Homo sapiens: one gene and its partners. The protein of the gene in region 4 interacts with the protein of the main gene of each other region in a biochemical or structural test. Each region holds a gene or a part of one and is shown on either strand. Other genes may lie near its edges.

Evidence for each region.
Region 1: the proteins of MUC3A (region 4) and PARD3B interact in a test that uses a peptide from one of them, tested with the Homo sapiens proteins (one large-scale study listed by IntAct).
Region 2: the proteins of MUC3A (region 4) and GRIP2 interact in a test that uses a peptide from one of them, tested with the Homo sapiens proteins (one large-scale study listed by IntAct).
Region 3: the proteins of MUC3A (region 4) and DLG5 interact in a test that uses a peptide from one of them, tested with the Homo sapiens proteins (one large-scale study listed by IntAct).
Region 5: the proteins of MUC3A (region 4) and PDZRN4 interact in a test that uses a peptide from one of them, tested with the Homo sapiens proteins (one large-scale study listed by IntAct).
Region 6: the proteins of MUC3A (region 4) and TJP3 interact in a test that uses a peptide from one of them, tested with the Homo sapiens proteins (one large-scale study listed by IntAct).
Region 7: the proteins of MUC3A (region 4) and FRMPD2 interact in a test that uses a peptide from one of them, tested with the Homo sapiens proteins (one large-scale study listed by IntAct).

The regions. Positions count from the first base shown.
Region 1 is NC_000002.12:204,551,975-204,555,474, forward strand, and holds part of PARD3B (partitioning defective 3 homolog B), read left to right. Parts: intron 1-3,500. UniProt on the Homo sapiens protein: Putative adapter protein involved in asymmetrical cell division and cell polarization processes. May play a role in the formation of epithelial tight junctions.
Region 2 is NC_000003.12:14,509,343-14,512,842, reverse strand, and holds part of GRIP2 (glutamate receptor-interacting protein 2), read left to right. Parts: coding exon 1-66; exon of another isoform or gene 67-404; coding exon of another isoform or gene 405-406; exon of another isoform or gene 407-1,150; intron 1,151-1,363; coding exon 1,364-1,430; intron 1,431-1,532; coding exon 1,533-1,678; intron 1,679-2,878; coding exon 2,879-3,023; intron 3,024-3,500.
Region 3 is NC_000010.11:77,920,256-77,923,755, reverse strand, and holds part of DLG5 (disks large homolog 5), read left to right. Parts: intron 1-3,500. UniProt on the Homo sapiens protein: Acts as a regulator of the Hippo signaling pathway.
Region 4 is NC_000007.14:100,959,534-100,963,033, forward strand, and holds part of MUC3A (mucin-3A precursor), read left to right. Parts: coding exon 1-1,112; intron 1,113-1,218; coding exon 1,219-1,404; intron 1,405-2,739; exon of another isoform or gene 2,740-2,782; intron 2,783-3,500.
Region 5 is NC_000012.12:41,565,820-41,569,319, forward strand, and holds part of PDZRN4 (PDZ domain-containing RING finger protein 4), read left to right. Parts: intron 1-11; exon of another isoform or gene 12-487; intron 488-1,963; coding exon 1,964-2,080; intron 2,081-3,500.
Region 6 is NC_000019.10:3,732,384-3,735,883, forward strand, and holds part of TJP3 (tight junction protein ZO-3), read left to right. Parts: intron 1-1,369; coding exon 1,370-1,529; intron 1,530-1,943; coding exon 1,944-2,052; intron 2,053-3,182; coding exon 3,183-3,256; intron 3,257-3,485; coding exon 3,486-3,500. UniProt on the Homo sapiens protein: TJP1, TJP2, and TJP3 are closely related scaffolding proteins that link tight junction (TJ) transmembrane proteins such as claudins, junctional adhesion molecules, and occludin to the actin cytoskeleton.
Region 7 is NC_000010.11:48,240,197-48,243,696, forward strand, and holds part of FRMPD2 (FERM and PDZ domain-containing protein 2), read right to left. Parts: intron 2,157-3,500; coding exon 1,965-2,156; intron 297-1,964; coding exon 164-296; intron 1-163.

The DNA of each region.
Region 1 (3,500 bases), on a different chromosome or scaffold from region 4:
CCACTAGACATATGTGGTTGTTAAGTAGTTGAAATGTGCCTAGTGCAACTGAGGAACTGAATTTTAAATTTTAATTTAAATGTAAATCGCCACAAATGGCTTGCCTTAGTGGACAGTTCAGATCCAATGCTCTTCTGATGGGTTCTGTCAGCTGCTTTTGGAAACCACTGGCTTAAAGACCAGATCCCAGGCAGTCCTTAACTTGACATTGCTACTCAGTTCTGTTGAGAACTTTGCCATCAGAAAGGGATCTTCAGCCACTCTTTGGTATCCACAGGTGGTAGAGAGAGCCTTTAAACCTTAAATGCTCCACCTAGACACTAGCACAAAAACTAGCTGGGTTTGAGAGTAAGCCCAGGTTGGCCTCAGTTTACACCTTTGGTGCAACAGGCTGAGGATGTACATCCTCTGTCTCTGGTACTGGGTGGAGAGTGGGCCAAGAAGGAGCAGTGAACAAAAATCTGGGCCATTTTTAGTGAGATTTAGATGCTTCTCGACTGATAGAAATACTAAACACCTTCAGTTCAATTAAGTCCCAGCTATTTATCTTTGCTTTTATTGCATTTGCTTTTGGGTTCTTGGTCATGAAATCCTTGCCTAAGCCAATGTCTAGAAGGGTTTTTCCAATGTTATCTTACAGAATGTTGTAGTTTCAGGTCTTAGATTTAAATCCTTGATCCACTTTGAGTTGATTTTTGTGTAAGGTTGAGAGGTGAGGATCCAGCTTCATTCTCCTACATGTGGCTTGCCAATTATCGCAGCACCATTTGTTGAATAGGGTGTCCTTTCCCCACTTAATGTTTTCGTTTGCTTTGTTGAAAATCAGTTGACTGTAAGTATTTGGGTTTATTTTTGGGTTCTCTATTTCTGTTCCAATGGTCTATGGGCCTATTTTTATACTAGTACCGTGCTGTTTGGTGACTATGGTCTTATAGTATAGTTTGAAATGAGAGCTTTTCCATGGCAAAAGGAACAGTCAGCAGTGTAAACAGACAACCCACAGAGTGGGAGAAAATCTTTGCAATCTATACATCTGACAAAGGACTAATATCCAGAATCTACAATGAACTCAAACAAATTAGCAAGAAAAAAACCAAACAATCCCATCAAAAAGAGGGCCAAGGACATGAATAGACAATTCTCAAAAGAAGATATAGAAATGGCCAACAAACAAGAAAAAAATGCTCAACATCACTAATGATCAGGGAAGTGCAACTCAAAATCACAATGTGATACCACCTCACTCCTGCAAGAATGGCCATCATCAAAAAATTTTAAAAAAATAGGTGTTGGTGTGGATGTGGTGAACAGTGAACACTTCTGGTTGGAATGTAAACTAGTACAACCACTATGAAAAATAGTGTGGAGGTTCCTTAAAGAACTAAAAGTAGAACTACCATTTGATCCGGCAATCCCACTACTGGGTATCTACCTAGAGGAAAATAAGTCATTATATGAAAAAGATACTTGCACATGCATGTTTAGCAGCACACTTTGCAACTGCAAAAGCGTGGAACCAACCCAAATGCCCACCAGTCAACGAGTGGGTAAAGAATCTGTGGGGTGTGTGTGTGTGTGTGTGTGTGTATATATATATATGTATATATAAGGCTATATACATATATATGTATATATATGGCTATATACATATATATGGATATATATTTATATATATCCATATATATATATATATATATATATATATATATATATATATATATACACACATATATATAAAGGAATACACCTCAGCCATTAAAAGAGAGACTGAATTAATGGCATTTGCAGCAACCTGGATGAGATTGGAGACTATTACGGCAAGTGAAGTAACTCAGGAATGGAAACCCAAACATTGTATGTTCTCACTCATAAGTGGGAGTTCTCACTGACACAAAGGACTTCAGGGACTCAGGGAGAAAGGGTGGGAAGGGCATGAGGGATAAAAGACCACAAACTGGGTGCCGTGCATACTGCTCAGGTGATGGATGCACCAAAATCTCACAAATCACCACTAAAGAACTTAGTCATGTAATGAATCACCACCTGTTCCCCAATAATTTATGGAAATAAAAAAATTTTAAAAATACTAAACATCTTAAGCACATGCTTCCTGGAACCTACACTCTCCTGACTTTTTTCCTATCTATTGTCCATTCTCAGGCTCTTTGGTTGTTCCTTCTTTCCTCCTCTACGTCTTAGCACTACAGTACCCCAGGACTCAATTCTTAAGTCTCCACCTGTCTCTCTCTGCTTACAGTAATGTGGTTCCAAATACCACTGGGGTAGTTCCAGCCCAGGTGTCTTCCCTGAACTGCCAGCTCTATATACGGCTTTCTTGACCCTTTGCCTGGACATCTGGTAGGCATCTTACACTTATAGCATGCCCCCAAATGAATTCCTAATCCCCAACTCCAAATCAAGTCCTCCTACAATCTAAGCATGTCATTAAATGGCAAGGCCATCTTTCTAGCTGTTCACCAGAAATGCTTGTCATCACCCTTGACCAATGTTTTTCTCTCATGATCCACATACAGTCATTCTGCAAATCTGGTTGACTCTGCTCTCATACTAGATTTGGAATCTGACTACTTTTCAGTCTCTTTCCTGTTAGTATACTGGAGCTTGATTTTTATTATTTTTTTCTTTAAATAGACTTTAGTGTCTCCATTTCTGCCCCCGAGACTCCCACATTACTGTCTCTCCTTAACACAAAAGCTAGAGTGATAATTTAAAATTATAATCAGGTCATGTCATTCTTCTACTGAAGATCTTCCAATGGTGCACATCTCTCCTAAATGGCCTTGGAAGTGCTACATGATCTGACTATCTGTGCAGAAAAAGTTAATGTAGCAGGCCTGAGACTGCTATCCTTAGAAAGCCCTGCTTGCGAAGCGGGGCCTTGGCTGGTGGCATCTGGAAAGTTAGATTTGTGGAGGGCTACCATCATTCCCTTATCGGAATGGCTCACTGTGCAAAACTGTTTCTGCAAACAATATGGCTTATGCTGAACACCTGCTCTTTTTCTGGGAGTCTGGAATTTTTGTATATGCTAAGCAGAAGGTGCCTATGTGATCAGTCTGCAGTAAAAACCTTGGGTGCTTAGTCACTAATGAGTGTTCCTGGTAGGCAACATTTCGCACATGTGGTAAGAACTCACTGCTGGGGGAATTAAGCAAGTCCTCTCCACTAAGGGAAGACCCTTGGAAGCTTGTGCCTGGTTTCCTGCAGACTTCGCTCTGAATGCCAGTTTGTTTTGCTGATTTGGCTTTGTATCTTTTCACTAATAAATTATATCCATGAAGGGCCTGGTACGGTGGCTCACACCTGTAATCCTAGCACTTTGGGGGCTGAGGTGGGCGAATCACCTGAGCTCAGGAGTTCAAGACCAGCCTGGGCAACATGGTGAAACCCCGTCTCTACTAAAAATACAAAAATTAGCCAGACGTGGTGGCACACACCTGTAATCCCAGCTACTTGAGAGGCCGAGGCAGGAGAATTGC
Region 2 (3,500 bases), on a different chromosome or scaffold from region 4:
GCAGTGGCACCTTCCACGTGAAGCTGCCCAAGAAGCGCAGCGTGGAGCTGGGCATCACCATCAGCTGTGAGTCTCCTCCCGCTGCTGTTTGCCCCTGGGAGCGAGCTCAACTGCTGGGGAAAAAGAGCTTGCCAAGCTCAGACCAGCATTTCCATGGCGTGACACCCTGCGGGGCCCGAGGAAAAGGCTTGGGGGTGTGGGGAGGCTGGCTTCCGTGGACCCAGCTGCGTGTTCTCAGCGAGACCCCAGCTTCCCAAAGCTTCAGCTTCCCGTTCTGCACCATGGCAGTCCCCTGGCCTCGTGGGTCTCCCAGGGGGCTTGTGAGGTGCCCATGGTGAGAGAGCATTGGAAGGTGACAAATATTTAGGCTGGGTTTGGTTTTCTGCCTGCTTCTGTGTTCTCAGAGCCCAGCAAAGGCCTGGAACACAGTAGGTGCTTAATTCATGTTTGTCAAAGGAATGAAAATGAGGAATGCAGAAGAAAAACGTAGAATGGGTGAGCATGGGAAAGGTGAAAGCACTCCCGTGGCTCCCATCTTATTCTGAGTAAAAGCTGAGGGCCTCGGGCCCCAGTGAGGCCCTCTGTGCTCTGGACCCCATGACCTCTGACCTCATCTCCCGACTCTCCCCAACTCAAGCCCTCCAGCCGCAGTCAGCCTGGCTGCTCCCTGCCATGCCTGCCCCTTCCTGCCTCTGGGCCTTTGCATCTGAGACCGTTCCTCTGGCCTCTTCCCTACCTCCTTCATGGCTTTGCCCAAATGTCACTTGACAAGGCCTTCCCCGACCACCTGACTGAACATTTACCGCCCTCGACACAAGCCCGTTTCTCAGGTTTCTCCACAGCTCACTTCATCGGTGTTTAAATGTTGTTGATTGTGACCACCACTGGAGTGCCAGCTCCAGGAGGGCAGGGAGAGATTGCTGTCTGTTTTGTTCACTTCTGTGTCTCCCACCCCCAAGCACACAATAGAGCCTGGGTGCTGGCCCTGAGCCCGGTGCTGGGGACACAGACACCAAGCAGACAGCCCCCCTCCACAAAGAGCTCGCAGTTTGCTGGGGGATGGGCTGAGCAGGAGGAAAGAAGAGCTGGCATTGGAAGGGCCATGCTGGATCTTGTGCCTGTGTTATCTGGTTTACTCTCACCACATCCCCATGAGGTCTGCGGTGCCACCCCCATTTTACAGGGGGGAAACTGATGCACAGGGAGGTGAGCTGATTTGCTCACGGTCACCCAGCCAGGAAGCAGTGGGACCAGGATGTGAGTAGGACCAGTGGCTCCGAGTCCACACTCAGACCCCTGGGCTTCGCCACCCCACCCCAGGCTGAGGCCACCAAGGTCAGATTCATGGCCTCTTTTTCTCCAGCGGCCAGCAGGAAACGAGGGGAGCCCTTGATCATCTCCGACATCAAGAAAGGCAGCGTGGCACACAGGTAGGGGCACTGGGGCACAGGAAGGGAAGTGGCCAACAGCAGTGAGTATGGCACCTGCATGCACCAGGCTCCTTCCATCCCCTCTGCCCCCGACTCATGCAGGACGGGCACCCTGGAGCCAGGCGACAAGCTACTGGCCATTGACAATATCCGCCTGGACAACTGCCCCATGGAGGACGCCGTGCAAATCCTGCGGCAGTGCGAGGACCTGGTGAAGCTGAAGATCCGGAAGGACGAGGACAACTCTGGTATGGCCCTCATGCTGGCCTCCTACCTCCAGAGGCCCACCCTTTGACTAGCGGGTTCCCAGCTTGCAATTCAGGGCTCCCTCCAGCCGAGGAAGGGAGGGTGGTGGGCGCTGCTGAAGGCTGGCTGGAATGAACAAATGAAGGAGGGGGCAACACCACAGATTTCTCACTGTCCCCGGCGTCTGGGGCCCTCCAGAGCCTCTGTGAGGTGGACAGGAGTTTGAGACTCTCCCGTAGTCTCCACATCTAGCACCAAGCCTGGCAGAGGAGACCTACTGGGTGCAGCTGGTGCAGCTGGTGGAGAGATGAGTGGGTAGGGCAGGGGAAGAGCGAGGCTGCCCTTTTGAGTGGCAGGCTATGAGTGGATAAGCAAAGACTGCAGACTCAGGCCCCACTGACGCCAGATAGTGATATAAATGAGTGAGAAAAGCTGTATGGATTGGAGAGGCAAAAGGGACGGGTGAGGACTGCGCCAACTGGAAAGTGAATCCCTGATTCAAAGGGGCAGCCTCCAAATCACCAACTCCGACTCTGTGAAAGAAGGTTACTGTGGGAGGTAGATTTCTTTTCTTTTCTTTTCTTTTCTTTTAAGAAAAGTTGGGCCAGGTGCAATGGCTCATACCTGTACACCCCTCACTTTGGGAGGCCAAGGTGGGTGGAGCACTTAAGCCCAGGAGTTCGAGACCAGCCTGGGCAACATGGCGAAACCCCATCTCTACAAAAAATACAAAAATTAGCTGGGTCTGGTGGTGCATGCCTGTAGTCCCAGATACTTGGGAGGCTGAGGTGGGAGGATCACTTGAACCCTGGAAGCAGAGGTATGGCAGTGAACTGAGATCGTGCCATTGCACTCCAGCCTGGGCAGCAGAGCAAGACTCTGTCTCAAAAAAAAAAAAAAAAAAAAAACAACGGATGATCGGGGTTCCCTTTGCTTCCTGCTGGCTGCTGGAGGAAAAGAGGCCACTGTTTCTTGTCATCAATGTTGTCATTATTGTGGGTGAGGTGTGATGTTTCTTTTCTTTACTGGTATTTGGGCAGAAGATGGCCTCAGGGTCCCCAGGTTGTGCTACATGAAATCAGAGCGTGAGTGACTGGGTGAATGAATTAATAAATAAGTATGAGTGAGTGAGTGAGGCCAAGGCTTTAGGAAGCTGGGTACCCCCTCGGGGGCCTCCTCCTCATGGGTCCCCGTGCTTGCAGATGAGCTGGAGACCACAGGTGCCGTCAGTTACACAGTGGAGCTGAAGCGCTACGGGGGTCCCCTGGGCATCACCATTTCGGGCACGGAGGAACCTTTTGACCCCATTGTCATCTCAGGCCTCACCAAGCGTGGCCTGGCTGAGAGGTGAACTGGGGCTCTGTGGGGACGCATGGTGGGCTCAGGGAACACAGGAAGCAAGAGCTGGGGCTATGGCAAAGCCAAGCAAGATTCTGACCTCTGTTCCAACATTGACACTGTGGGTGACATTGGGCCAGTCACTTCCCCTCTCTGAGACTCAGGTCTGCATTTGTAAAATGAGTGTCAGCCCCTGCCTGCCAGGGCAGAGGCCCACACCCCAGCAGACCTCCTGGCTCCAGGTAAGCACTGGGCCAAGGTGTGTGCATCTTCCTGCTCCTACCTGTGTCTGGAAGGTCAGCCCTGCAAGGCTATTTGGAGCGCCTGCTGTGTGCGGAATAGGATGGGGCAGTGCCCCAGTACCCTGGTCCCAGCACTGCCTAGGGCTTTCCTGAGGCATTGGGGGACTGTCCCTGCTGCCCCTAGACTCTGAAACTGTGGCAGCTGAGGGAGCTGTAAGAATGGAGCCCTGTCCCAGGGTGAGGT
Region 3 (3,500 bases), on a different chromosome or scaffold from region 4:
GACAGGGTCTCACTGTGTCACCCAGGCTGGAGTGCAGTGGCACAATCTCGGCTCACTGCAGCCTCCGCCTCCTGGTCTCAAGCCATCCTCCTGCCTCAGCCCCGCAAGTAGCTGGGACCACAGGCACATGCCACCACACCAGCTAATTTTTGTATATTGTGTAGAGATGGCATTTCTCCATGTTGTCTAGGATGGTCTCGAACTCCTGAGCTCAAGCGATCTGCTTGCCTCAGCCTCCCAAAAGTGTTGGGATTACAGGCGTGAGCCACTGCCCCGGCGCAGGGGAGGCTCCTTTGTGAAGGGTAAATTGCTGTGTTGTAGGTCTCCACTTTTTTGCTTTTTTTTCTTTTAGCCAGGAAGTATTCCTTATGGTCAAAGCTCAGTGCATAAGAGAGCGGCTCTGGCTGAAGGAATGGAAGTCTTCTTCCTTGAGGAGCCATAGTCAGGAAAACCCAGCACTTGGTCCTGCCTCCTTCCACTCCTGAGTGATTTCCACTCTGTGCTCTGGGCAGCAGCTCTGGGTTTGAATTGGCCTCAGTTCGAGGCCATTGCGGAGCCTGAGAGAGGAACCAGCTGGCTCCCTGGGATCCTTAGCGTCAAGGGGTGGCTGCTTTGGCACCGATTCTCTGTTGGAGATGATGCCATCACCCACCTAGGAGCTTCCTTGATGGATTCCACACCCTGTGTGGGCTCCTGATCCAGAATGCCCATCCCCCACTGGCACTTGGGTGCTGAGGGAGTCTGCATCGGCAGCAGCCTACCACGTGGGGCCTGGAACTGGAAGGAAACTGGGGAGGACATGTGCCTGGGTGTTGGTGGGCAGGTGAGCAAACCCAACCCATCGGGGCAACTCTTGCTGAGTTAGATCCCCAGACATTTAAACCTACCACGCTCAGGCCTGGGGGTGTGGAGTGACTAGGAGACACACTGTGTTGTGGTTTTTTTGTTGGAGGTGTGGCTCTTATTCCGGTATTGATAGGGCATTGTCATTCAGGATTTTGTGTCCTATCTTCATATCTCATTAACTCTGTGGCAGCCCCAGGGAGATGAGTGGTGTCTTATGATCTTTGGTTCCAGGGCCCTGTCTGTAAGGAAGAAGTCGCAGGGCAGAAAGGTGCCTGAGTCAAGGCCAAGCCCAGTGCCCCTGATTCCTTGTCTGGGGTGGTTTTTCCTGTTCCCTGGTTAGGCCTTCCCACTACAATTTCAGGACATTTCCAGTCACTGTGGGACTCTGAAATTATGTAGCTTTCTTTTGTCCCGGATTTGATACATGGATCTGCGGGGAACAAGCGAACACCTTTGCCCCAGCTGGTGGTAGGGAGAAGACAGAATTGTTTACTTCTGAGTGGCTCAGTTGGGTCTCTTGTTTTTCCCAGTAACCAAGTCTAGCTTGGTCACTTGGAGCCCCATGCAGTCCTTTGTTTTTTCCCTTTGATTTGGGGAAACACCTGAGTTTTTTCCCTTGAGGATTCTCAACTCCCTGCCCCTGGGGTGAGCCTCAGTATCTTCATCTGTAAGATGGGGCTAATGGTGCTGCACTGCCTGCCTCTGTCACCGGGAGCATTGAAGTGCCTGGCCCAGGTGGGGCTGGGGTGTAGACAGGGGCCGGGGTGCACAGGATGTAATTCTAGTCCGTAGCTTGCCGCCTTGTTGGGGGAATGGGACGCTCATGAGAGTGACATTATGAGACAGGTCAACTGATAGAGATGCACAAACAGGCTTTTTCTTTTATAAAAAACTCGGTATGCTACACACTTTCCCCAGATACTCTCATTCACCTTTAGTGGCTCTCATTACCATCTAAATGTGGGACTCCTCAAGTCATTCCCACCAGGCCTCTATTGGGAGGCAGAAATGGCAGAACTTGGCTGGACCTCTCGCGTGCTCATTGCCTGATGTTTCCTTCTCGTTCCCACTCCCCACACCTCCTGTGCCTCCTCTTTACTTTCCTAGTGAACTGGCTGGCTTGCTTCATCAAACTTAAGAGAATGGAGCCAGCAGCGTCCGCTGGAGAAGCCGAGGAGAGCTTCACGAATGTGCTGGGACTTGGTGTTGAAGTGAAGCTCTGAATGCATGGAGCCATGGAGGGAGGACGTGTGGGCTGCGTAGGCTGGACCGCACAGGCTGAGCCATAGAGAGGAGCCATGTGTTTACCCAGCCTGAGCAGAGCAGGGGTTTGGCCTTGGCTCTGGGTGGAAGGGAATTGGGGATGCAGAGGTAATCTGGAGGACCTTAATGGCTAGGCTGAGTGGGAGGTTTGAATTTAGGCATTGTACACTGTCAGAAATTAGAGCTGGAAGTTTGTTTTTTTTCCCCAAGGGAATAACCCTGCCAGGCTTTTCTAGTGGGACTAATGCAGATGGGTGCTGATTGTCAGGTGTGGGTTATTTATTATTCAGCAGAGGTTGCCTGGCCTTTTGTTCTCTCTCCACTTCCTTCGGGTACCAGCCACCTTTTCTTCATCCCCTCTGCCCTGGAGGGTCAGCAGGGCAAGGGACATAAGTAAAAGCTCCAGCTGTTGTGGTTTTTCTTTTGGTTCTTTTGTTTGTTTATTTACTTATTTTTTAGAGACAGTGGAGTGCAGTGGTGCAATCATAGCTCACTGCAGCCTCAAACTCCTGGGCTCAAGCCATCCTCCTGCCTCAGCCTCCTTAGTAGCTAAGATTACAGGCGCATGCCACCCTGCATGGCTAATTTAGGTGGTTTTAATTGTGTTATTTAAGAGGAAGTGGCAGAGTCATTTGAAATTAATGGTTGAGAAGAGGTTTTTAAGTGAAGGGCAGATTTTATCTGTGTATCATTTCAGGGTACCTTTATTGCAAAATGACAGAAACTTAGCTCAGATCATCTTAGGTAGAAAAAGAGAAATGTATTGACTTAGAATATTCCACAACCTTTGGATGGATGGTGGAAACTGGCCTTTGGGACGTTTGACCTCTTGGATCGATGCTGTGGGCTTTTCCCACGGGTCTGAACATGACCTCAGGCCCCTCTGTTCAGGTTCACAGCCCCTGACCAGGGAAGAAAGGGAGCTCTATCCAATCAGCCCAGGCAGACAAACCTCATGGTAGGATTCTGATTGGTCTGGCCAGTGTTATGTGTCCACATGAGGCCCGGTCACTGTGGCCAGGGCTAGAGGACTAAGACTGGCTCAGCTTTGGCACTGTGCCCAGCAGTGGAACCCCAGGGTAAGGTGATGGGCTACTGTGATTGGCAGCCCATTCCAACACTATGTGGGTTTTTAGAGGGAGGCAGAGCAGTTGTCTAAAGGAAGACAAGCAGCAGCGATGTCACGCAGGTAAAAGAGCAGATGAATGTCCACTCCAAGCATTACCACCTTTGTGCGATAATACAGTTAGCACAGGCGGTCATTGCTGGAGTGGGATGGTGGGTCTAGGTAGTAATGATCAGACCTTACAAGGTTTTAGACCTTGAGCAAGGTTTTTAACCCTTCTGAGCTTATCTCCTCTACAAAGTAATTAAAACACTAACTACTTCAC
Region 4 (3,500 bases):
GTCAGCCACTGGGACCCAAACATCTCCTGCACCTACTACTGTCACCTTTGGAAGTACGGATTCCTCCACGTCCACTCTTCATACTCTTACTCCATCAACAGCCTTGAGCACGATCGTGTCAACATCACAGGTTCCTATTCCTAGCACACATTCCTCCACCCTTCAAACAACTCCTTCTACTCCCTCATTGCAAACTTCACTCACATCTACAAGTGAGTTCACTACAGAATCTTTCACTAGGGGAAGTACGTCTACAAATGCAATCTTGACTTCTTTTAGTACCATCATCTGGTCCTCAACACCCACTATTATCATGTCCTCTTCTCCATCTTCTGCCAGCATAACTCCAGTGTTTTCCACTACCATTCATTCTGTTCCTTCTTCACCATACATTTTCAGTACAGAAAATGTGGGCTCCGCTTCTATCACAGGCTTTCCTAGTCTCTCTTCCTCTGCAACTACCAGCACTTCTTCAACCAGCTCCTCTCTGACCACAGCTCTCACTGAAATAACCCCCTTTTCTTATATTTCCCTTCCCTCCACCACACCCTGTCCAGGAACTATAACAATTACCATAGTCCCTGCCTCCCCCACTGATCCATGTGTTGAAATGGATCCCAGCACTGAAGCTACTTCTCCTCCCACCACCCCATTAACAGTCTTTCCCTTTACTACCGAAATGGTCACCTGTCCTACCTCCATCAGTATCCAAACTACTCTTACTACATATATGGACACTTCTTCCATGATGCCAGAAAGTGAGTCCAGCATCTCACCCAATGCTTCCAGTTCCACTGGCACTGGGACTGTACCCACAAACACAGTTTTCACAAGTACTCGACTGCCCACCAGTGAGACCTGGCTGAGCAACAGTTCTGTGATCCCCCTACCTCTTCCTGGCGTCTCTACCATCCCGCTCACCATGAAACCAAGCAGTAGCCTCCCGACCATCCTGAGGACTTCAAGCAAGTCAACACACCCCTCCCCACCCACCACTAGGACTTCAGAGACACCAGTGGCCACTACCCAGACTCCTACCACCCTTACATCACGCAGGACAACTCGCATCACTTCTCAGATGACCACACAGTCCACGTTGACCACCACTGCAGGTTGGACCTTCTGCCTCTCTGTTCCCCTCCTTCCTCCCCTGCAAAATTCCTGTGTCACTGAGGTCAGGCTTTATCCTGAGCTTCCCTTTCTTTCTGTGTTTTCCAGGCACCTGTGACAATGGTGGCACCTGGGAACAGGGCCAGTGTGCTTGCCTTCCGGGGTTTTCTGGGGACCGCTGTCAGCTCCAGACCAGATGCCAGAATGGGGGTCAGTGGGATGGCCTCAAATGCCAGTGCCCCAGCACCTTCTATGGTTCCAGTTGTGAGTTTGCTGTGGAACAGGTGGATCTAGGTGAGTTGCCAGAGCTATGCCTTCTGCACTTCCTCCCACAGGGTGTCACTGACTCTCCCCAGACTTATCCCTCTGTGGGGCCTGGAGGCACCCATGCCTTTTTGCCCGGTCCTTCCCTCCCTGCCATCTCTCCCATGCCCTCCGCTGCCCTGTGTCATGCTCCTCTCCGTCCTCACCCTTAGGAGGTGGCTGGGACTACCCTCCCTCCTGGGCCCATCTCCTGACTTGGGCTGCTTGGAGCTGTATCAGTTTCCAACTGCTGCCGGGCCAACAAACACAAATCTGGCTGCTGGAACAACACGACATTATCATGTTAGAATTCTGTAGATTAGAAGTCTGATGTGGGTGTCACTGGGCTGAAATCAAGGCGTCACCAGGGCTGTGTTGTCTTTCAGCGGCTCCAGGGAAGAATCCATTTTTTTGCCCTTTGCAGCTTCTGGAGCCTCCCACAGCAAGCCTGCATCTCTCTGTGTCTTTCTCCCATAGCCTCATCTCCCTCTAATGAACTCTGGCCTCCTCAATTGCTTCTCCCACTGTTAAGGACCCTTGTGATAACTTTGCCTCCTCCCCAAATAGTCTATGTTAATTTTCTCAAGATCAGCTGATTACGCCGGGCGGGGTGGCTCACACCTGTAATCCCAGCAGTTTGGGAGGCTGAGGGGGTAGGATCACCTGAGGTCAGGAGTTGGAGACTAGCCTGGCCAACATGGTGAAACTGTCTCTACTATTAGTTGGGCATGGTGGCAGATGCCTAAATCCTCACTATTCAGGAGGCTGAGGCAGGAAAATCGCTTGAATCCAGGAGGTGGATATTGCAGTAAAGCGAGATTTCGCCACTGCACACTAGCGTAGATGACAGAGGGAGAGTGAGACTCTGTCTTAAAAGAAAAAAAAAAATCAGCTGATTGTCTTATAATCCCTGCACTTTGGAAGGCCGAGGAGGGAGTATCGCTTGAGGCGAGGAGTTCAGGACCAGCCTGGGCAACACAGCGAGACCCTCATCTCCACAAAAAATTTTAAAAACTTACCTCACGCCTGTAATCCCAGCACTTTGGGAGGCCGAGGCGGGCGGATCACGAGGTCAGGAGATCGAGACCATCCCAGCTAAAACGGTGAAACCCCGTCTCTACTAAAAATACAAAAAATTAGCCGGGCGTAGTGGCGGGCGCCTGTAGTCCCAGCTACTTGGGAGGCTGAGGCGGGAGAATGGCGTGAACCCGGGAGGCGGAGCTTGCAGTGAGCCGAGATCCCGCCACTGCACTCCAGCCTGGGCGACAGAGCGAGACTCCGTCTCAAAAAAAAAAAAAAAAAAAAAAAAAAAAAAAAAAAACTTACCTGGGCATGGTGGCTCATGCCTGTGGTCCCAGTTATTTGGAAGGCTGAGGTGGGAGAATCACTTGAGCCTGGGAGTTCAAGGCTGCAGTGAGCTATGATCCCCCTATTGCACTTCAGCCTGGATGACAGAATGAGACCCTATCTCAACAATAAAAAAAAGTTAGGCTGATTAGCAATCTAATTCAATCTGCACCCTTGATCCTCCCTTGCCATGTAGTATAGCATAGTCACAGTTCTGGGGATTAGGACATGGACATCTTCCCACTATGGGGGCAGCCAGGAGGGACCACAGGCTGACCGCTATCTTTCTGCCTGCTTTCACTCATCTCCACACAATTCCTTCCTTCCTCTCGCTCTCTTCTTTCTTTTCTTCTTTTCTTTTGTCTCTTTCTCTTTTCTTTTTTTCTTTCTCTTTTTCTTTCTTTCTTTCTCTTTCTTTTCTTTCCTTTCTTTTCTTCTTTCCCTCATCTTCACACAATGCTTTCTCCCTTTCTTTCTTTCCTTCTTTCTTTCTCTTTCTTTCTTTCTCTCTCTCTCTCTCTTTCTTTCTTTCTTTCTTTCTTTTTCTCTCTCTCTCTCTATCTTTCTTTTTCATTTTCTTGAGAGACAGTCTCACTCTGTGGCCCAGGCTGGAGTGCAGTGATGCAATCTCGGCTCACTACAACCTCCGCCTCCTGAGTTCAAGTGATTCTCCTGCCTCAGCCTCCTGAGGCATAATGCATCCTGGAATTCCTACATCTGTTCCTGCCTCTGGGCATCAG
Region 5 (3,500 bases), on a different chromosome or scaffold from region 4:
GTAGCCACTACCTTTGAGACAGTGTAGGTTGTTCCTTTTTCTGAGATGCCACATGTGGCCCCCTTTGGTGCAGATAGATCCCCACTCTTAGTAGTAACAATCCCTCTTTTCCTGCAGCTCAGCTCAAGGGAGATGTCTGTCTCTGCCGTTACATTAGACTCAGACCATAGTGAATGTACATCTAGGTAGAAAGGGGGAAATAGGAGAGAAGAAGGAAGTGAGCAAGAAGAATCTCCCTTTGCTAATTGTGCTGTGTGCACCTCCAGCCTAAAAGAAAGCCTTATCAAAATAGACATATAATGACTATGGCTGGCAACTCAGGAATCTACTGGATTACTCAATAAGAAAAGAGTTATGGGGAATCATTAATTTTGACCATTTTCTCTTTATTTTCCCCACTACTTCATTTAATCCTCAAAGGACTCTGTTTCATCATTCAATATATCAGTGTTAGAAAATACTTTATTTTGACCTGATTAAAGAAAAATTCCTTGATGTGTTTGTGAATAGTAAGCACTCCCCATTTTAAGTAATTTTTTATGATGTCTGGCATTTGTAGCTTTATGATACTTGAAAAAGATTAAAGAATGTAAAATTTGAACAATTATAAATTGGGCTGAATTTACATTTTTACTTGGCATAATTTTCATAGCTCATCTGCATATCAAAGTCACAGGAATTTGATCAAATTATTCAGGCGACATTAAGATAAATGAGGATGAACAAATGTGCCAGCACTTTGGGCCCCAGTTAAGTTTGAGGTCATTTAAGTTCTACATGGCCTTTAATAGATATCATGAAATCTATGATTTGCCTGCATATTAATAAAGATGATACCTGTATGCTAATGCCTCTTTTGGTGCAGCTGAATGTCCTTTCCAGTTTGTTTTTAAGTTGTAGAAGTTCAGTTATGTTTAAAAGCTTATTTTGCCAGTTCATTGGTGGTGAAAATATCTCAAACTATTATCCATGTTTGCTCACTAGAATGCTATTTCTTTGTACAGGGTGATGCAGAGTTTTGACGATAATCCAGTTAATTTAATCAGCATAGACAGCTAATTTATGTAATCCAGCTCCAAAAATCCACTTTGAGGCAAATTATCTGTAGTAACTGTCAACACTGATCATATTAGATCATATTAGCCAGGTAACCACCAGTTTTCCACTTCACTTTGTATTGAAAAGCCGAAGGGATTTGTTCAGTTCAATTTGCATTAAGAGTCCTACAAGAATACTTGTTTTCAACACCCATAAACAAAACCCTGCATGCCCCACACCACTCCACCACCCTTAAATGTCGCATCCACTGAGGTGTTTTTCCTATAAAATTGGGCCTGAAAACAAATTAAAATAGACATGGAGTAATATTGCTTTTCTTTCCTTTCCTTGAGAAGAATAACTTAGAATTTTCCTTTCTTCACAGACAAAATAAATGTCTTCTGTACATTCTTTTGTGGCAAGCAGCCATCTTGTTGACATGGGAGCCCACCTAAAAAGAAAAAAGCAGGATGAGGATAGCACGAGCGTATGGGGGGAACTTTGTGTGCAGTCTCGTTGGGGGTTGTTGTTAAAGAAAACAGCCCAATTGTCTCATAGCCCAATTAGTAGCATGGCAGTCCTTTTAACACGGGACTGTTGGAGGTAATGAGCATGACAGCTGTGGATTATGCAGGATGCTTTTCATACATTTTGAAAGAAGGTAATATTCTGTGCTGTGAGATTTACTTGGTTATGAGAGAAAATCTGTAGTCCCATTTCAGGAAAGGATAAAAGGCATAAGAGTCCTTTTTTTTTTTTTTTATCACCTTTTCTTCTTTCTGAGAGGTGAACTGTGGGAGGCTGGTATTCTGAAGAGAATCATTATGATAAAAGGAACTCGTCGGGCACCGGCCATTTAAGTTTACTCTATTTTAACATGAGTTCTCACTAACATAATATAATGTACTAATGTATTCTTTTGCAGCTGGATGAAGGCTGGCTGGAAGATGAAAGGAATGAATTCTTAGAGGAGTTAAACTTGGAGATGTTGGAAGAAGAGCATAATGAAGCAATGCAGCCCACTGCCAATGAGGTGGAGCAGGTAGGGCCAACAATTTGAACTACATCATTTGATATGTTGCTTGTTCTTTTTTTAATGTGTAACCATAAATGAAGATGAAAACAAAATCAAAGGGTTTAATCCATCATCTCTATCATGGTAATTTTTTAGAGCAAATGATCATCTCAAATGAAGCAGAGGGAATAAATAAAATGTTTTTCCATTAAGAATATATCCAGTTTGGGAAGCTTGGGGACAATTGTTAATACAGTACAGTAGTATTCAAATGTTGACCCAGGCACTACTTCAAACTAATTGCAGAAATTTAAGAGTAAAAAATGTGTGTTGCTTATCAATATGCCAGCTGAAAACAAACTGAGGTAGCTTCCCCAATAAGTAATTTTTTTTACTCTAAAATATTAATGTATCTATTTGAATACTTAGGCTATCACTATAGGATGAAGATGACATGATGTAAGCCATCAGTTTTATTTGCGTACTGGATGGCGTGATTACACCTGTATATTCTGAATAATCGTAGAGATTATCCTTGGTCTTATGGCTGCTGTTGACACATTTCCCATAGTATAACTTGTGCAACATTTCTCATAGCATAGTTTGAGATTATTAACATCATTTTGCCTTGAAGTCACATATTCATTCAACTAAACACTTTGAACTCCTAATATGTTCCAAGTACCCCACTTGAAACTGAGAATAAAAAGAAAAATGAGCAGAACTGCTGTCCTTAATGGATTCATAACTAGTAAAAGATCACAGTGTGATTAGTATATTATTTTTATTGTCTTTTTCCCATTTTACAAAAACAAGTTCAATGTATTCTAGATTTTTTATGTTACACTCATGTCATTTATCTGCCTGATATAATTTTGTTTTCAGTTTACTGATTTGTTTAATTATCTTCCTATTCTCAACATTATTATATGTATTTTATTATATATATATATACGGAATCTTGCTCTGTCGCTCAGGCTGGAGTGCAGTGGCACAATCTCAGCTCACTGGAACCTCCGCCTCCCGGGTTCAATTGATTCTCCTGCCTCAGCCTCCTGAGTAGCTGGGATTACAGATGCCCACCACCATGCCCAGCTAATTTTTGTATTTTTAATAGAGACAGGGTTTCACCATGTTGGTCAGACTGGTCTTAAACTCTGACCTCGTGATCCACCTGCCTCGGCCTCCCAAAGTTCTGGGATTACAGGCATGAGCCACCGTGCCCTGTCTATTCTTATTATTATCATTATTATTATTATTATTTTAAGATAGAGTCTCACTCTGTCGCCCAGGCTGGAGTGCAGTGACACAATCTCAGCTCACTGCAACCTCTGCCTCCTGGGCTCAAGCGATTCTCCTGCCTCAGCCTCCTGAGTAGCTGGGACTATAAGTGCACGCCATCATGCTCAGCTAATTTTTGTATTTTTAGTACAGATGAGGTTTCACC
Region 6 (3,500 bases), on a different chromosome or scaffold from region 4:
TGCCCTGCCCTAAAGGATGGTATCTTTCTGGATTCTTCCCCTGAAAGTCTGTTTCTAGTGACTCCTAGTGTTTGATTTCCAAATTGCTTTCAGCTGATTATTTCCAGTGTCTTCAAAAAGTTATCTGTTTCTTTTTTTTTTTTTCAGACAGAGTCTCGCTCTGTCACCCAGGCTGGAGTGCAGTGGCGCAATCTCGGCTCACTGCAACCTCCGCCTCCCAGGTTCAGGTGATTCTCCTGCCTTAGCCTCCCGAGTAGCTGGGATTACAGGTGCCCGCCACCACACCCAGCTAATGTTTGTATTTTTAGAAAAGACGGGTTTCTCCATGTTGGCCAGGCTGGTCTCGAACTCCTGACCTCAGGTGATCCCCCCCGCTCGGCCTCCCAACGTGCTGGGATTACAGGCGTGCACCACCACACCTTGCTAATTTTTTGTATTTTTAGTAGAGACGGGGTTTCTCCATCTTGGTCAGGCTGGTCTCGAACTCCCGACCTCAGGTGATCCATCCGCCTCGGCCTCCCAAAGTGCTGGGATTACAGGCATGAGCCACCACACCCGGCCGACATTAAGTTCTTTCTAGGAATTGTGTGTTTCTAATCTACCTCTAGATGACTGTTTTCTTTTCTCTTTTCTTTTCTCTTCTCTTTTTTCTTTTCTTTTCTTTCTTTTTGATATGGAGTGTCGCTCTGTCACCCAGGCTGGAGTGCAGTGGCGGGATCTTGGCTCACTGCAACCTCCACCTCCCGGGTTCAAGTGATTCTCCTGTCTCAGTCTCCTGAGTAGCTGGGACCACAGGCGCCCACCACCACGCCCTGCTAATTTTTGTATTTTTAGTAGAGACAGGGTTTCACCATGATGGCCAGGCTGGTCTTGAACTCCTGACCTCAACTGATCTGTCTGCCTCTGCCTCCCAAAGTGCTGGCATTACAGGCGTGAGCCACCGCGCCCCACTCTAGATATCTGTTTCTAGTTATCTCCCAGAAGATTGTGTGTTTCTAGTATCTTTTAAGTATCTGATACTCCCTCTTCTCCAGTTAGAGTTGTTTATAATGTCACCCTCACATCTGTTCCTAGTATCCCCTGAGACATTTCCACTTTTGGTAAGAAAGGAGAGTCAACCTGTTTCTCATTTTCCCCAGTGTCTCCCACCCCTCTTAGAACATTTTCTGTTTCTAGAATTCGGTGCTCAGTTCTTGGTGTGGTCTCCACTCACAGCAGGAATCCAATTCAACACTTTCCTTAGGGAGTGGCTGTTTTTAGCAACCTCTGGGGGAATTGTCTGTTTCAAGTTCCCCCACACCAGGCTGTTTCTACTGTCTCCCATCTCTCATTAACTCACTTCCGCTCTTTCATTCCTGGTCCCTTTCAGATCAACGGGGTGTCTAGCCAGAACCTGTCACTGAACGACACCCGGCGACTGATTGAGAAGTCAGAAGGGAAGCTAAGCCTGCTGGTGCTGAGAGATCGTGGGCAGTTCCTGGTGAACATTCCGCCTGCTGTCAGTGACAGCGACAGCTCGCCATTGGAGGGTGAGGACCTAGAGGTTAGGACCTGGGAGGGGGTTGAATGGATGGCAGGGAAGGTGGGAAGCCCCAGGCAGGGCCAAGGAATCAATGAGCCTGGTCCCTAGAGGCTCAGAGAGTGACAGGAACTTGCTGAAGGCCACACAGCAAGTCAAGAGTTCAGGGGGGCGATCTCGGCTCACTGGGTTCAAGCGATTCTCTGCCTCCTGGGTTCGAGCGATTCTCGTGCCTTGGCCTCCTGAGTAGCTGGGATTATAGGCGTGAGCCACCGTGCCCAGCTCCAGAGCCGAATCTTCTAACTGAGCTTCTGACTTTGGTCTAGGGCCCTTTGTTTAGAGGGGTGTTGATATACCCCTCTGTAAAATGGGTCCAGTCCAGAAGGCGTGACCATGGCTGATGAGATGTCCTCTCCCCCTGCAGACATCTCGGACCTCGCCTCGGAGCTATCGCAGGCACCACCATCCCACATCCCACCACCACCCCGGCATGCTCAGCGGAGCCCCGAGGCCAGCCAGACCGACTCTCCCGTGTAAGTATCACCCATCGGCCAGAATGGTGATAGGGAGGGAGAGGGAGGTGGGAGGGAGAGGGGAACGCGGGCGTAGCTTTCCAACTGGGGGTAACCTTGAGGACGCAGTCCTGTATTTCTAGCATGTGCCTCAAAATACCTCCAGCCTCTACCCATTACCCAGTTCCAAAGCCGTGTCCGCATTTGTAGGTGTTGGTTACAGCAGCACCCCACTTCTTAGTATCAAACTCTGCCTTAGGCCAGGTGCGGTGGCTCACGCCTGTAATCTCAGCACTTTGGGAGGCCGAGGAGGGTGGATCATCTGAGGTTAGGAGTTCGAGAACAGCCTGGCCAACGTGGTGAAACCCTGTCTCTACTAAGATACCAAAATTAGCCCGGCGTGGTGCCGGGTGCCTGTAAGCTCAGCTACTTGGGAGGCTGAGGCAGGAGAATCACTTGAACCCAGGAAATGGAGGTTGCAGTGAGCCGAGATCGTGTCATTACACTGCAGCCTAGGCAACCAGAGCAAAACTCTGTCTTAAAAAAAAAAATTTCTTTTTCCTCTATTTATTTATTTGTTTTGAGACTGAGTCATGTGAGACTGGCTAATTTTCATATTTTTGGTAGAGATGGGGTCTGTATTGCCCAGCTATGTTGCCCAGGCTGGTCTTGAACTCCTGGGCTCAAGCATTTGGCCTGCCTCAGCCTCCCAAAGTGCTGGTATTACAGGCGTGAGCCACCACGCCCAGCCCAGATAAATTAAAATTATTTTTATTTTGTTTATTTATTTATTTATTTTTTTGGAGACAAGGTCTCACTCTGTCGCCCAGGCTGGAGTGCAGTGGCATGATCTTGGCTCACTGCAACCTCTGCCTCCCGGGTTCAAGCAATTCTCCTGCCTTAGCCTCCTGAGTAGCTGGGATTACAGGCGCCCACCATCATGCCCGGCTAATTTTTGTATTTTTGGAGAGACGGGGTTTAACCTCGTTGGCCAGGCTGGTCTTGAAATCCTGACCTCAGGTGATCTGCCCACCTCGACCTCCCAAAATGCTAGGATTACAGGCATGAACCACCGTGCCCGGCCTAAAATTCTTTTTAAAATGGCCCCTTGAAATCCATCCCTGCCTCACTCCCAATCTGTTCCCCACCAGGGAGAGTCCCCGGCTTCGGCGGGAAAGTTCAGTAGATTCCAGAACCATCTCGGAACCAGATGAGCAACGGTCAGGTGGGTGGTGACTCTGAGCACCCCTGTCCCTGACATTTCTGATCCCTGACAGCAAGGCTGTGCCAGGCAGAGCTGGGGGAGGTTGGCCTGAGCCTAAGTGGTGAGACATGGTTTCCTGAGAAGGACTCGAGGTGGGTGACAGTCCTTCCAGGATGAGGACATAAAGCAAAGGTTTGGAGGCTGGACTGAGCCAGTGTGCTTGGGAAAGAGACTGGCTTTTCCCTTTCAGAGTTGCCCAGGGAAA
Region 7 (3,500 bases), on a different chromosome or scaffold from region 4:
GAGTCCTAAGCTCAGCCCCTTCTCTTCAGGGGCTTCCTGAAAGAGTGGCACTTACATAGGCTTTCTCTGCCATCACAATGTGGATGTGTAGCCCATACAGGGCAGGAAAAAATAGAATGGGTACCATCAGCCCACGCAGGGACTGCTTAGGGCACGTACCCACCTCTGCAAGGATGCAGACACTCCGGGGCCTGTGCCGCTGGGCTCTCGCTGCTTGTCCCACGCAGCCTCTTCCTGAGCAGGTAGCTTCTGTTCTGCTGCACAGAGGAGCTTTCCTCCACAACTCTTTTCTCCACCTGGGGGTCAAGTGCATCACACATCCACATCCCAAGATAAGGAGGGGGCGTTTTTATAGATACATGCAAACTGGCTGTCAGACTGAATCAATGTGGAATTGTCTGCCCTATACGGTGACCTAAAGATGTGTTCTCTGGCACCCAGAATGTGCTCTGTGCCCACCCCCTGCATGCACCCTGAAGGCACTTCACTCCCCACTCCAGACCTGCACACTCACACACATCTGTGCCTTTGCTCATGCATTCCCTCCATGGCTACAGCCTCCCCAGAAGCTCCTCTGTGCCCACAAGACCCAGAGCTGTGTGCTTTCTACTTCTAAGCCTCTCTACCTCTGCCGTCTGATCACCTTCCCTTATCACTGCACTCACACCTGGCTCTGTTGCATCATGTTCCATGAGTGTGCTGCTTGTCTGTCTCCCCCAACATCTCTGTGTGCTTTATGCACCACCGTAGCACACCTAATGCAGTGCCCAATGAATGTTGAATACGTGACTGACATCTACCTTGCAGATCCCTGACGGAAATGTTGCAGGTCAGTACACTGTCTATCCAAGGACAATGGCACACCAGTGGATGGTAGACCTCAGTATCTTTCAAATAAATATAGTCCATTTCCCCCACCAAATCCTCTGGCTCAATTCATAGGAGCCACATGTTCCTATGCCAAGAGAGAAGGGGTCCAAGAAGGAGGCCTTCTCTGATGGCAGAGGCCTTCTCTGATTGACTGTTGCCGCTGTCCACCCTGCTGTCCCCACATCTCCATCCACTTTGGCCCTCATTAATCCTGCTCTCAGCTCTCCAACTTGTCCCTGGACAAGTGCAGCCACTCAACTGGCCTCTAGCTTACCTGTCTCTGGTTCCTCCCAAATACAAACTTCCTTACATTTTGTGCCATAGGCACCTCACTTGCCCATCCTATCCCAGCTCCACTCAGGTCTCATGGGGGACCAACTCCATGGTGCCATTCCTGCAACAGAGCTCCCCAGGGGGCCAGGCTGGGCCTGTCTCCAGCTGAGACTATATCCTTCAACTTGTCAGCTGTACTACCATCACTCCCCTCTCCCAGGAACATTTCCCCAGTAAATAACTTGCACAAGAATCCCTGTCTCTGGGTTAGCTTGGAGGGAATCCAACCTAAGCCAAATGCCTCCCATGTGCCAGGCCCCTTGCTGCACTCTGTGGAGTGCACAGGGCAGCAAGCAGCACAGTGTGACAAGCACAACAAAGGACACCCCACAGGTATAAAATAGCAGAGGGGAGGGTACCCAGGGACCACAAAAACGAAGTCGGGGAAGGCTTCTGTGCAGAACCTAGAGTTGAATTTTGATAAGAAAACTGAATCATGGGTTCTAAACATTATTGCTTTATGTAAGGACGCACTTGCAAAGATGTCAAGGGTCTTAGCCATGTGACAAACTGGGGCTTGCCTAAAGGTCTTTGTTAGCACTGCCCAATAGAACTGCAATGACAAGAATGTTCTAGATCCACCCTGTTCAATAGGGTCATCACCTGCTACGAGTGGCAACGGAGCACTTGAAATGTGACAGATGTGACTGATTAATTTAATTTTTTATTTTATTTTAGTTAATGATAATATAACTAATTCAAATTTTAATAGCCACACATGACCAGCAGCTACTGCTTGAAAAGCACGGTTCTCTACTGACCTCAGAAATGGTACCCAGAACCAAGCCAACCAGCCTTCTGATGTGGAGACCAGCAGGGGCTGGGTAGACAGACACTTCTTTCTCATGAACCCGACAAGCTTCCAGAACCGACTGCAACGTGCACCGCCTGTGAGGCTGGTCTTCACACATGGTCAGCAGGATGGAGTGCAGGGGCTCGCAGAGCTGCAGGGGCTGGAGGCAGACAGGGCCGGTGAGAGGAGAGAGCAGCCAGAGCTGCCACTACGAGGCCAGCACCTTGTCAGGCAGGCCTTGGAGACATGGAAACGGGTGTTCCCACAAGCACCAGAGCAGATGCCTGCCCCTTCTGGAGAGTTTAAGGACAGACACAAGATCCATCACTGAGGCCGCAAAGTGCGGAGCAATCATCTCTGCAGCAATTCTGTGTTGTCTGCTGCTTTCTAAACCAGAACATCCTTCTGCCCAAGCACATGCTTGGAATGCTCATGAAAACTAGATGCTTTGACAAGATGGATTTCCACCTGTGCCAAGCACCCCAAATCAAACCAGAGGTCAGCCTTTCACTCAAGTTCACCTGCGTAGCTTGTCATTGTATCCAATCACTCAGGGGGTCTCACTTGGCCTTTCCCCTGGAATGTGAGCTCCTGGAACATACAGACTGTGGCCTATTCCTGTTCACTTCGGAACAGCCAGCAGTCAGCACAAATGCTCAATCGTTGTTGGTTGAACTTTATGTCACGTGTACACATCGAGCAAAAGAAAACAGAAGCATCTTATAAGCATTTCCCTCATGCATTTAAATGACCACAATTCATAGGAGAAAGTCCTCAAATTCAGATTCAAAATCAGACTTTTTCTCAAGCTCAACACACACTGCAGGTCACTTTCCAGATAAAGGCTGCACTACCGCTTCTTGCTGGGGAGCATCAGCTGTGAGCACCTATCTCTGTGTACAGCCAAGCTGCTGAGTCCTGCCGTCACAGTAAATCCAGGCGTCTTTTGTGCCTGGTGCTGCACAGCCACACCAGATACAGTCCCTGCCTTCAGGAAAATAATGGTGTGATGAGAGAGACGGTCACTAAAAGAGACAAAGACCATAGAGGATGACAAGGACTTTCACCTTGGGAAGCACAGGCCATGGCACTAATGTAGAGGAAGGGGCTTAGCCAAGGCTAGAGTTAACCAAGAGGAAAGTGGGGAGTGAGGTGCTGGTGAAGGGATCCGTGTGTACAAAGGCACGAAGATGCAGATGAGCTGACATGCATCTGAAGGGAAGGGGATTATGAGCAGGACAGGGGCCTGGGGGAAAATAGCAATGTGGGGTCCCTTGTTCAAAATTATTAAGAATTCCAGGACAGTGATAGCAGAGCATTAAACTAAGTGCAGGACCCTGTGCTATGACACAGGGTCACACACTCAGGACACACACCCAGGAAGCCGGTCCTGATTATGGCAGAGTGCCAAAGGGGAACCAGACGGGAGCAGGGACCCTATCCTAGGCTCCAGGTGTGTCTCACTGAGAAGTCAGAAGGCAACCCCACGGCCAGTGAGGCGTTA